Homo sapiens: one gene and its partners. The protein of the gene in region 2 purifies or fractionates together with the protein of the main gene of each other region. This does not show direct contact. Each region holds a gene or a part of one and is shown on either strand. Other genes may lie near its edges.

Region 1 (3,653 bases), on a different chromosome or scaffold from region 2:
CATTTTACATCCTGGAGTTTGTTTTTTTCTCAGAAAAAAATAGATCAGGGATCTTAGAGAGTACAGTTGGTGGGGTATGGAGATAGGAAAAGAGGATAATGCTTATTTGATCTTACGCTTGAAAGAGCGGTTTTCAGAGGTCTCTCCCTGCAGGTGGCCACATGGTTGAAGAGTGACGTGGGGCTAGGTGAGAGTCCTCAGCCCAAGGGAAATGACCTCAACAGTGACAGACAACAGGCCTTCTGCAGCCAGGTGTGGTAGGAGTCCAGTCAGCCTGACCTATGGTAACACAGGAAACCTGCCTTTTGGGCATCTTTCCCTTCCTGGCCCTTTTCTTTGCTGTCTGTAAGTGTTTAGCGTCTGTAGAAGTCTTCAGACTCCTCACTCTCTTAGAACCAGAGTGAGACACAGAGTCCCTAAGCTTTTGGGCTGGGAGTGGAGAGCTGTGTCTTAACCATGAACTATGGCCCTCCCCAAACCTTACCTGGCTATTTTTTTAGTTTTACCCATTAACGGCCAAATAGTAGAGCTCTCAGGGCTACTAAGCCAGCTCTCTGTCTGTCTTGGGTTCATCCCTAAGTAGTCACCTCTGTCCTTCCTCATACAGGCCTCCAAACACACCACAAAGGAAGCCTCTGCTTCCTCAGCCTTCTTTGATGAGCTGGTCCCTCAGAACATGACTCCTTGGGAGATCCCCATCACAAAAGGTACCCTGACCCTGAGGGAGAGGGAGAGTCTCTGCTTAGGACTAGGTGGGCACGGAGGTTTTGGACTTGAGACATTCCCTTCTTGTCCCCTGCCTCGTGCCTTCCTCCCACCGTCTCAAATGCTGAGTGAGTCGCTTACCAGTTAGAGCTCTCTCTGGTTGTAGATTTTCATGGATACGTCCTTCCTATGGAAGGCCTTCTACCAACAGATTTTCTTCTATCCTTCTTGCTGAAAGGACTGTGGCCCTGCCCACTGTGATCAAGCACACCTCACACTGTGCTACTGCCACATCAGTTCCCTCCCTTGTCTTGGGCCCTGTCTTTAGACCTGGGCACCAAAATACATTTTATTGCCAAGGAGTGAAACTTGAGGATTTAGTTTGGAGCCAAGCACACTGAGTGATATAGAGATATAGAGGGTGTGCTGTGGGCCCTGCAGGGGGCAGGAAGTTGGGGTTTGAGAGCAACTAATGCACAGGGGATGCTTCTGCCTGCAGATATTGATGGACTCCTAAGCCAGGCTCTCCTGCTTGGGGAACTGGGTCCGGCCGTGGAGCTGTGTCTGAAGGAGGAGCGCTTTGCTGATGCCATTATCCTGGCCCAGGCTGGGGGTACAGATCTGCTGAAGCAAACACAGGAGCGCTACTTGGCCAAGAAGAAAACCAAAATCTCCTCGGTAACTGCCCATCATGCAGGAGAAGAAGGGAGGGGATTACTTGGACCTTGTGAGGTGGATACCCACACCTTGGGACCCATGTTTGAGTATCTGCCTGCCTCTCTCTTTCTACTCTAACCACCCCCACCTCATCCCTTGCCCCTACTCAGTGCTCTAACAGGAGGCCTGTGCAGGAATCCTGCTGCCTATGCTGGATGGATGGCTGATGGTCTCTTTCCCTCTCTGCCCATTACAGCTTCTAGCCTGTGTTGTGCAAAAGAATTGGAAGGATGTGGTGTGTACCTGTAGCCTGAAGAACTGGAGAGAGGCACTGGCTTTGCTACTGACATACTCAGGCACAGAGAAATTTCCCGAGCTCTGTGGTAAGTGTGGTCCCAGGCTTCAGGATGAAATGGTGTGACTCCAGCATGGAGTCAAAGGATGCATGCAGGAGGGAGGTGGAGGAGCAGACTGAGCTGTGGGAGGCGAGGCAATGTTGTCAGGGCTAGAATCTGGCTCAGCCAGGAGGCAGGGACCACAGTGCATGCCCCTATTTTCAGAGGGGATCCTTTGTTGTCCTGTTTTACCTTGTCTTGTCACACCATGATGTGAGAACTTTCCCCTTCTCTGTACAGCAAGGTGAGTCTCAGTGTTGTCTTAAACTGCAGCTACTTGTCCCAGGCTCATGGTCCTCTCCCTGTTTCCAAACAGGAGAAGGAGAGGCACACAGGGCAGCTGTGCCATTAATGAAATTACCCTCTCTCTGCAGACATGCTGGGAACTCGCATGGAACAGGAGGGCAGCAGGGCACTAACCTCCGAAGCCAGACTCTGTTATGTGTGCTCAGGGAGTGTGGAGCGGCTGGTGGAGTGCTGGGCAAAATGCCACCAGGCTTTGTCCCCCATGGCTCTGCAGGTACCCCTTCTCTGCAGGGTACTGGCCACTCCACACCAGGCCCTTAGGAGGCTAGTGGTGGAGATGTGCAGAGCTAGCAGAGGCGAATCTTCTGGGACAGGCTGGAACCACGGTGTTAGGGAGGAGCGAAAGGTCCTGAATGTCTGGGATCTTCTCCTCTTCCCTCAGAGAAGACTAAGCAGCAGCTGCTTCAGTGTTAGTCTTCATAATTTTTTTCCTATTTCAGGTTTGGTTTTACAGATGTATTCAGTACTTGAGTAATTGTGGCTTGGCCCTTCTATTAGCTACTGTGGAAAGTTCTGTGGATCTAAACTTCCAGGTGTTCTGTGGGTGACCACAGAAAGTGGGGGTCACAGACTCATGGAGAGACAAAAGTCGCACATGAAACAATTAGTCTGACAGAGTCTGTGGTTGGTGATGTATAAGCAGAAAGGGTAAAAAAGCAAAAGGAAGAGGTAGAGATGTACAAAAATCTAAGACCCAGATGGGTCCAGTTAAATCCAATCCTAACAGCTTGGGAGGTGAGGCCAGGTGGCCCTTCTCTGTCACAGTTCTTACGTGTCATCATCTGCTGCCTTCACCTAGGTATGGTCAGGTGCCCTCATCTGTACCCATAGTGGGAGATCCCTGAATGAGCTGCGTGGACTTAGAGAGCAGGATATGCCTCATTGAAGGCTTACCACCCTCATCCTTGCCCTTACAGGACCTGATGGAGAAGGTGATGGTTCTTAACAGGAGCTTGGAGCAACTGCGGGGTCCTCATGGGGTGAGCCCAGGCCCTGCCACAACCTACAGGGTCACTCAGTATGCCAACCTCCTGGCAGCCCAGGGCAGCCTGGCCACTGCCATGAGCTTTCTACCCAGGGACTGTGCTCAGGTAAGTGGGGCCATGTGGAGAGAGCAAACCATTTCATTCAGTCATCTAACATTGATTGAGCACTTCCATATTCCAGGCACTATGCTAATGCTGAAGCTCCTAGGATAGATAAGATGGAATCCCTTAAGCACCTCACAATCTACTGGGGGAAGATCAGATGTTGATGACTTATAGTGCCATAACAGAAGCTTATACTGAGCACTGTGGGAGTCCAGGGAAGGGACTGATTTTTGCCTGGAGAAGTCAAGGAAGGCTTCTCAATGGTTAAAACAGCTGAGCTGGACCTTCAAAGAGAAGTAGCTTACCAGCAGATATAGAGCATTCTAAGCAGAAAGAATAGCAAGGAGGGAGGCATGCAAGTGTTTGGCAGGGATTCAGGAACCTTGAGTCATCTCTAAGGGGGCTAGAGTATAGAGCGGGGGTGTCCAAGGGTCAGAATACAGTCGTGGGTGCTTAGTTTCTGTTTCTGGTTGGGCCAGTAAAGCCCCTTCCTCATCCC
Region 2 (3,653 bases):
CGGAGAAGGGCGTGTCTTCGGCAGGCTTCACCACGACAGTACAGCCGGCTGCCAGGGCGGCCCCCACCTTCCGGGTGATCATGGCACTGGGGAAATTCCACTGGGGTTAGAAGAGCAGAGGAAGTATGTGAGAGGAAGGACCACCTCCTTAGTGCAAAGGAAGGCATGTTGGGAAGTCAGTGAACAAATTTCATTGCACAACTGATTGACAAACCCGTTTGGCTGCACAGGTGAGCTCTCAGAACACCTGACCCCCCCGCCAACTTGAGGGACTCTGAGATAAAGGCTCTTGAAGACAGGAAATATTTTTAGAATTTAACACAGTAAAAAATTAGTTAGACCAGGGGTCAGCCAACTTTTTCTGTGAAGGGCCAGATCGTAAATTTTTTAGGCTTTGTAGAATGTATGGTTTCTATGGCAATTACTCAACTCTGCAGCTGTATTGTGAAAACAGCCACAGATAGTAGGTGTATGAATGGGTGTGGCTGTGTCCCAATAAAACTTTATTTACAAACATAGGCAGTGGGCTGGATTTGGCCTGAGGCCCATGGGAGTAAGTATTAGCAATGGTTTTGAAAATGGCAGATGATTTATTATTCCTTCCACATACATATTTATAAATGCCTATACATATACCTATAATAACAGTATTTTATTTTATTTTGAAAAACTCTATTATATAGTACTTACTCTGTATCAGGTATTTTTCTAAGTACTTCAAAATTAAAATTAATTAAATCCTTATCACAACCCAATGAGGTTGATATTAACCTCATTTGCAAGTTCAAGAAAACGGAGACAGTGCAGTTAAGTAATTTGGCCAAGGTTGCACATTTAGTAAATAGTGACCTTCAAGTCAAACCTAGCCAGTCTAGGCAATCAGGGGGATTCTGTCTGTAACTATGCTGAGCAGGAAAAACACAGACGTCTCGAGACCAGCTGACAGATACAGGAGAGAGGTTAATATGGGACCTAGTAGAAGGCAGGACCCAGAAGGAAAGCTGGGCGTTCCACAAATATACTGCAGCCCCATCCAGGCAGATGTGATACCTTATTTCTTAGCCTTTTTACCTCTAGAACCTGGCCCAGTGCCTGCTAGTGGGTCCACAAATGCTTTGTTATTGATGATAACCATCAATTAAGCATAACACTTTTTTCCAAACTATGGCAAGTTTAAAAATGTATCATATCTTAAGTCTTTTTAAAAATGATAAATACTGGAAGATCTTTTCAGAGGTGCTAGGCAATGCCAGGAAGAAGCCTCCATGCCAAGTCAGAAGAGCCCCTGGGTCCTCCTGCGGCTCATCCCACTTTTGCAGGCATTAGAAATGCATCATTCCACTCACTGCCACCACACCTAACATCATCACAGAGGACTAGGAAACACACTTCCACATCCAGCAAAAGCATCAGGAAACCAGGAACAGGTGACAAAACTAACAGGATGAGCACACCTGCTCACGAGGAAGAATGAATTGTTTCCCAACTCCCTATCCAATCTCCCACCCTAGGATCTTGCTGATCCTGTCACCTACCGGGGTGATGACTGCAGCCACGCCTATGGGCTGCTTGAGGACCAGGGCCCGCCTGTCCTTTGCCGGGGTGTGGATAATGTCTCCGTAAACACGGCGGGCTTCCTCAGAGAACCACTCTAGGAAAAAGGCGGAATAGAGAATTTCTCCATGTGCCTCCTTCAGTGGCTTTCCCTAAATTAAATCAGAAAAGAACCCACGTATTACCTTCTAATAATAAAAGCATGGCTCTGTGTTCCTAAATTCTTCAAGATGCAACAAGAGTAGAAAAGTCTCCTATAACGATACCCATAGAGTGGGGAAAATTTCTGACTTTGGTGTGAGTTTTAAAAAGCAGAATTACAATGATGAATGTATCACCCTAAACCACAAGTCATTGCATTCTCAATATGTTTACAAATTAGGAAACATCTAATTTTTTCCTCCTTTCAATATCTTCTAAGTATTGTAACCACGATATGAAATAATTTATTATATCTATGGAAGAAGTATTGGTACATTAAAAAATGTACAAAAACAAGTTTAAAAAAAAAAACAACCAAAACAGTAACATGGAAAAAAATCAGAATGGTGAAACAGCAGTTATTCATATAGTTGCAAACAAAATCTATTTTTGGATACTATTAAAGAATAAACTAGAACATACAAATATTATTTTAGCAAATCTAAGTACCCTGGCACAATAATGATTTGGTATTTGATCAGTAGAGAAGGAATCACATATTCTTCAGCTACAGCCAGCAGTGAAGGGAAGTCAGCGGCTTTCCCAAGTTTAGTGTAAAAATTCCTGGAGAATTTCTCAGTGCACCAAGCCAGAACCCTGAACTTACACTTTCAGCTGTGATTATTCTGGCAAGGTCATCCTTATTTTGTATCATTAAATTGTACCACTTCCGAAGTAATGAACTCCTCTCCTGCAAAAGAAATAACAAGGCAGAAAAGTAATAAAATGCCAAGTGTAAGACAGAATGCTAAATAAAATTCAATATCCTAAAATATTAGCTGTATGGTCTCATTCTCCTTGGTTGTAATGGTTAATTTTATGTGTAAATTTGACTGGGAGACCCAGATAGCTGGTAAAACATCATTTCTGGGTATGTCCGTGAGTGTTTTCGGAAGAGATTAGCATTTGAATCAGTAGACTGAATAAAGAAGATTTGCCTTCAAAAATTCAGGTGGGTATCATCCAATCTGCTGAGAACCTGAAAAGAACAAAGTGGCAGAGGAAGAGCAAATTCACTCTCTGCATGAGCTAGGACATCCATTTCCTCCTGTTGTCAGACACCAGACATTGTCATTCCTGGTACTCAGGACTTTGGACCCAGTCTGGAACTCAGACTGGACATATCAGCTTTCTTAGGTCTCCAGCTTGCAGACAGCAGAGGGTGGGACTTCTTAGCATCCACAGTCACATGAGCCAGTCCTTTATAAGAAGTCTCTTCCTATATTCCTACATATCTATGATTATATATATACACACATACACATATATATATACACACACACACATATATATATACACCCACACACACACACACACATATATATATATATATATATAAAACATTGGTTCTATTTTTCTGGACAACCCTGAGTAAGATGCTTGGGGAAACATACATTGAACTTCTGTGTTTTTTGATTGTTTGTTTTTGAGACAGGGTCTGGGTTTGGACAATGAAAAGCACACAAATAAAAAAAATCAAAAATTTAAAAAAATTTTAAAAAAGAGACAGGGTTTTGTTCTGTCACCCAGGCTGAAGTGCAGTGGTGTGATCATACCTCACTGCAACCTCTGCTTCCTTGGTTCAAGTGATCCCCCCAGCTCAGCCTACTACTGAGTAGCTGGGACCACAGGCACACATCATCACGCTCAGCTATTTTTTTAACTCCTCTGTGTCTGTTACAACTTTAAGCAGAATGTGACTCAGGCACTACATTTCCATCCACGAGACTGGCTCTGAGTTATTTCTGAACAGCTTTATGATATGCTTAGGTAGGCTTGTAACTTTGCTTCTCCAAACTATACTTTTCTTTGGAAAACAAGCCCTGTGGAGAGTTCCTTCCATCAAGTTGATTCAGTTTAACCTATTTCTAGAGGACTAGTACATGCAGAATTGGCAA
Region 3 (3,352 bases), on a different chromosome or scaffold from region 2:
GGTGGCAGTAGGGAGGAGGAGGGGGAGGTAAGCTAGCAGGCATCACAGGCAGCACAGTCTCGGGCCTTCCAGGCCTTCTTTGTCCTTATGGCTCAGCCCAGAGGGTACCTGGATTCCATGAGGACCTACTATGTGTCTGGGAGGGCCAGGAGCACTCAACTGTGCATTATCTCAATTCTCAAAAAACACTCTACAGAGTGGCAACCATTATTTCTTGACATGAGAAAATGGAGGCTCCTCAAGTCCCACAGGTGGGAGATGGAAGAGGTGGAAATTCACATCCTGGGAGCCTGGCTCCAGAGGCCAGGCGCTTGGTCACTTTCCCAAGGTGCCAATTTCCATGCCCAGGCTGTGGACCAGCACTGTCCAATACACTAGCCGCATGTCCACACTGAGATGTGCTTTAAGTATGAAATACACACCAGATTTCAAAGACTCTCAATTTTTGACAGATGACATATTAAAGTGATAATGGTTTAGATCAAATACATTATTGAAGAATGAATCAGCCTGTTTCTACTTTTAAAAATGTATCTACTAAAAAATTTTAGGATGACATATGCGGTTAATTTATATTAGATGCCTGAATTTCTATTTCTGTTGCACAGATGGCTTTGCCTCATCAGATCTTTATAATAATCCTAATGAGATAGGGGTTATGTCCTCCATCTTTCAGATGAGGGAATTGACGCTCAGGTTAGATCACTTGCCAAAGGTCACTTAGTATGTAAATGGTGAGATAAGAATTCAAATCCCCGGCTGGGTGCAGTGGCTCACGCCTGTAATCCCAGCACTTTGGGAGGCCAAGGCAAGCACATCATGAGGTCCAGAGTTCAAGACCAGCCTGGCCAACATAGGGAAACCCCGTCTCTACTAAAAATACAAAAAATCAGCCAGGTGTGGTGGCAGGTGCCTGTAATCCCAGCTGCTCGGGAGGCTGAGGCAGGAAAATCACTTGAACCTGGGAGGTGGAGGTTGCAGTGAGTGGAGATTGTATCACTGCACTCCAGCCTGGGCTACAGTGCGAGACTCTGTCTCAAAAAAATAAAATAAAAATAAATAAATAAATTCAAATCCCAAAGGTCTTGCACAAAGTAACATAGATGGTCCATGCCAAGGAGTTCTCCTAATTGTAAAGTTCCCCATAGGAGGCAGTGAGGAGATGGGAGGTGGTGTCTGTGCTTCCTAAGTACCTTTTCCACATCTATATCAAGGGGCCACCCCACTTTTGCTGAAACAACCACCAGTTATGAGGGTCTTACTGCTTCTCTCAGAACTGATAGTTTTGATTGTTCTCATATCAAGGTCCTGAAAACTTTACCCGTGGCTTCCCCTCCACATATTAGTTCCATATTTTGGATAGTACAGAGAAAAGCCTGGCTCTTGTTAGAGACCAGTTTGCAAGACCATGGGTGGTCCCACTCCCAGGGCCCCTGTCCCCGTGCCCCAAGTCCTGACCTGGAGTGAACTCCTCAATGCATTGCCAGGGCTGGCTAAGGCGGCCAGGATGGCGGTGGTGGTGGTGCCGATGTTGGAGCCCAGCGTGAGTGGATAAGCCCTCTCAATGGTTATCACGCCGATTCCTGGGGGAAACACAAAACACAAACATATCAGCCCCATGGGATGACAGGAAATGGCAGTGGTGGCCAGAGGGAGAAGCCAGGGTGTAACTCACCAATCAGGGGGGTCAAGGCCGACGTGAACACAGAGCTGCTCTGTACGATGAAGGTCATGCCTGCCCCGACGAGGATGGCCAGGTAGCCAGTCAACCATGCAAAGGGAAAGGGGAAATCTGGAAGACAGAAGGAAGAGATGTCATGGCCTCTCCGGGGAAGGTATGGCCTGGTGGCCTGGGGTAGGGGCTGGGCTTAGGGGTGAGGTTGTACATCATCCCATATATGGTCTCAGATTACAGAGTAGAGTTTTAGAATCCAGTTTCATTCCCCATTGTCTTTTGCTCCGCATATTCAGATGGAAAAACCAAGGATACAGGTAAGTGTTATGAAAACAAAAACACAGATTCCCTGGAGGTCAGGTTAGAAAGAGTGAACCCACCCAAGTAACCACTCTCCTTCCAGAAAGTGCTGAGAGCATGCTTCCTCGCCTGCCCTGGTCTCCTGTCAGCACCCACATTTGACCTTCAACCTTCATTTCTGCCTTAAAGAGCATCAAGAAACTGTAGCAGCTTGGAACATGCCTGCCAACTGAGTCCTCCACCCAACTAGCACCGGATCAGGCCCTGCATTTCCCAGAAGCACCCAGAGTTGCTCTGTTCCCCAAGACAATCTGGGGTGGGGGGCGAATTTTCTTGGCTATATTTCACTGAGCTTTCATGAAGTGATGATGTCATTGGCTTAGCGAGCTCTCATTGGCCAGGACACCCTACTTGGCAGGAAATCCTCTTAGCCAGCAGTCTCATTGGCCACCTCTAGATGCTGATGTATTTATGCATCACATTTCCTTTACAAGAGTGAAGGGAGGTGGGGGCGAGGGCAGACACCTGGGGTCCTTTTTCTAAGGGGTCTTGACAGAGCCAGTAAAGCTCTGAGCATACAGGAAACCCGCTAAGAAGGAAGGCCTGACTCACAGCTCTCTAGATATGAACTCCTGCTCAGGACCTTGCCAAGATGCAATGGAAACTTGGGCCTGCTCCCTAGACCCCACCCAGGATGCCAAGAACATTTCCAGGTGAATGACATCCTCACTTCTGGTGCTGATCCAATCTGAGAGAGAAACTCCATGCAGAGGCCATTGCTAGATGGGAATCTAAAGGACCCCCACACCCCATGCAGTGACTACATGTGAGGCCTACAAGTGAGGGCAGTGTACCTACCAGTGTTGATGGTCTTCTTGATGACAGTGGCGACCTGCCCCTTGAGCACAGAGCCCAGGATCTTGACAATCATGATCAGGCAACCACAGAGGACCAGCAGGGAGAGTATGAGCAAGATGGTGCCCACAGCAAGATCCGGGAGGTGGAAATTCACAAAGATATGCTGGCCTGAAAGACCACAAAGAATCTTGTCAGGAGGGCATGGAGCCACCACGGCTACAGATTGTTATTTATTCCCCCAGATCCTGTCTTTCCTACAAACAGATTCCTGGTTGTTAGTTTAACAGATGGCAGCCCCAAATCAAGACAGCCCTTCTCAGCCTCCTTCGCAGCAAGGGGCACCACTGAAACTATGTCATAATCAGTGGGATCGCATGAGGCTGGAAGATGAAGTGATGGCTTTAAAAATCACACAACTGTTCAGGGGTAGACTCAGCCCAGTTCTGTCTCTAAAGACCATGCTGTCGATGGTCTAATTTTTTTTTTTTACTAATGATAAGTATGCTTTGAGGGATTCGA

The links.
Region 1: the proteins of ALDH5A1 (region 2) and SEC31B fractionate together in Homo sapiens (co-fractionation; one large-scale study listed by BioGRID). This does not show direct contact.
Region 3: the proteins of ALDH5A1 (region 2) and SLC34A2 fractionate together in Homo sapiens (co-fractionation; one large-scale study listed by BioGRID). This does not show direct contact.

What each region holds. Positions count from the first base shown.
Region 1 is NC_000010.11:100,495,759-100,499,411, reverse strand, and holds part of SEC31B (protein transport protein Sec31B), read left to right. Parts: intron 1-153; coding exon 154-252; intron 253-607; coding exon 608-707; intron 708-1,204; coding exon 1,205-1,383; intron 1,384-1,618; coding exon 1,619-1,745; intron 1,746-2,131; coding exon 2,132-2,277; intron 2,278-2,980; coding exon 2,981-3,154; intron 3,155-3,653.
Region 2 is NC_000006.12:24,501,316-24,504,968, reverse strand, and holds part of ALDH5A1 (succinate-semialdehyde dehydrogenase, mitochondrial isoform 2 precursor), read right to left. Parts: intron 2,447-3,653; coding exon 2,363-2,446; intron 1,707-2,362; coding exon 1,536-1,706; intron 101-1,535; coding exon 1-100. UniProt on the Homo sapiens protein: Catalyzes one step in the degradation of the inhibitory neurotransmitter gamma-aminobutyric acid (GABA).
Region 3 is NC_000004.12:25,672,736-25,676,087, reverse strand, and holds part of SLC34A2 (sodium-dependent phosphate transport protein 2B), read right to left. Parts: intron 3,002-3,352; coding exon 2,834-3,001; intron 1,793-2,833; coding exon 1,676-1,792; intron 1,584-1,675; coding exon 1,459-1,583; intron 1-1,458. UniProt on the Homo sapiens protein: Involved in actively transporting phosphate into cells via Na(+) cotransport.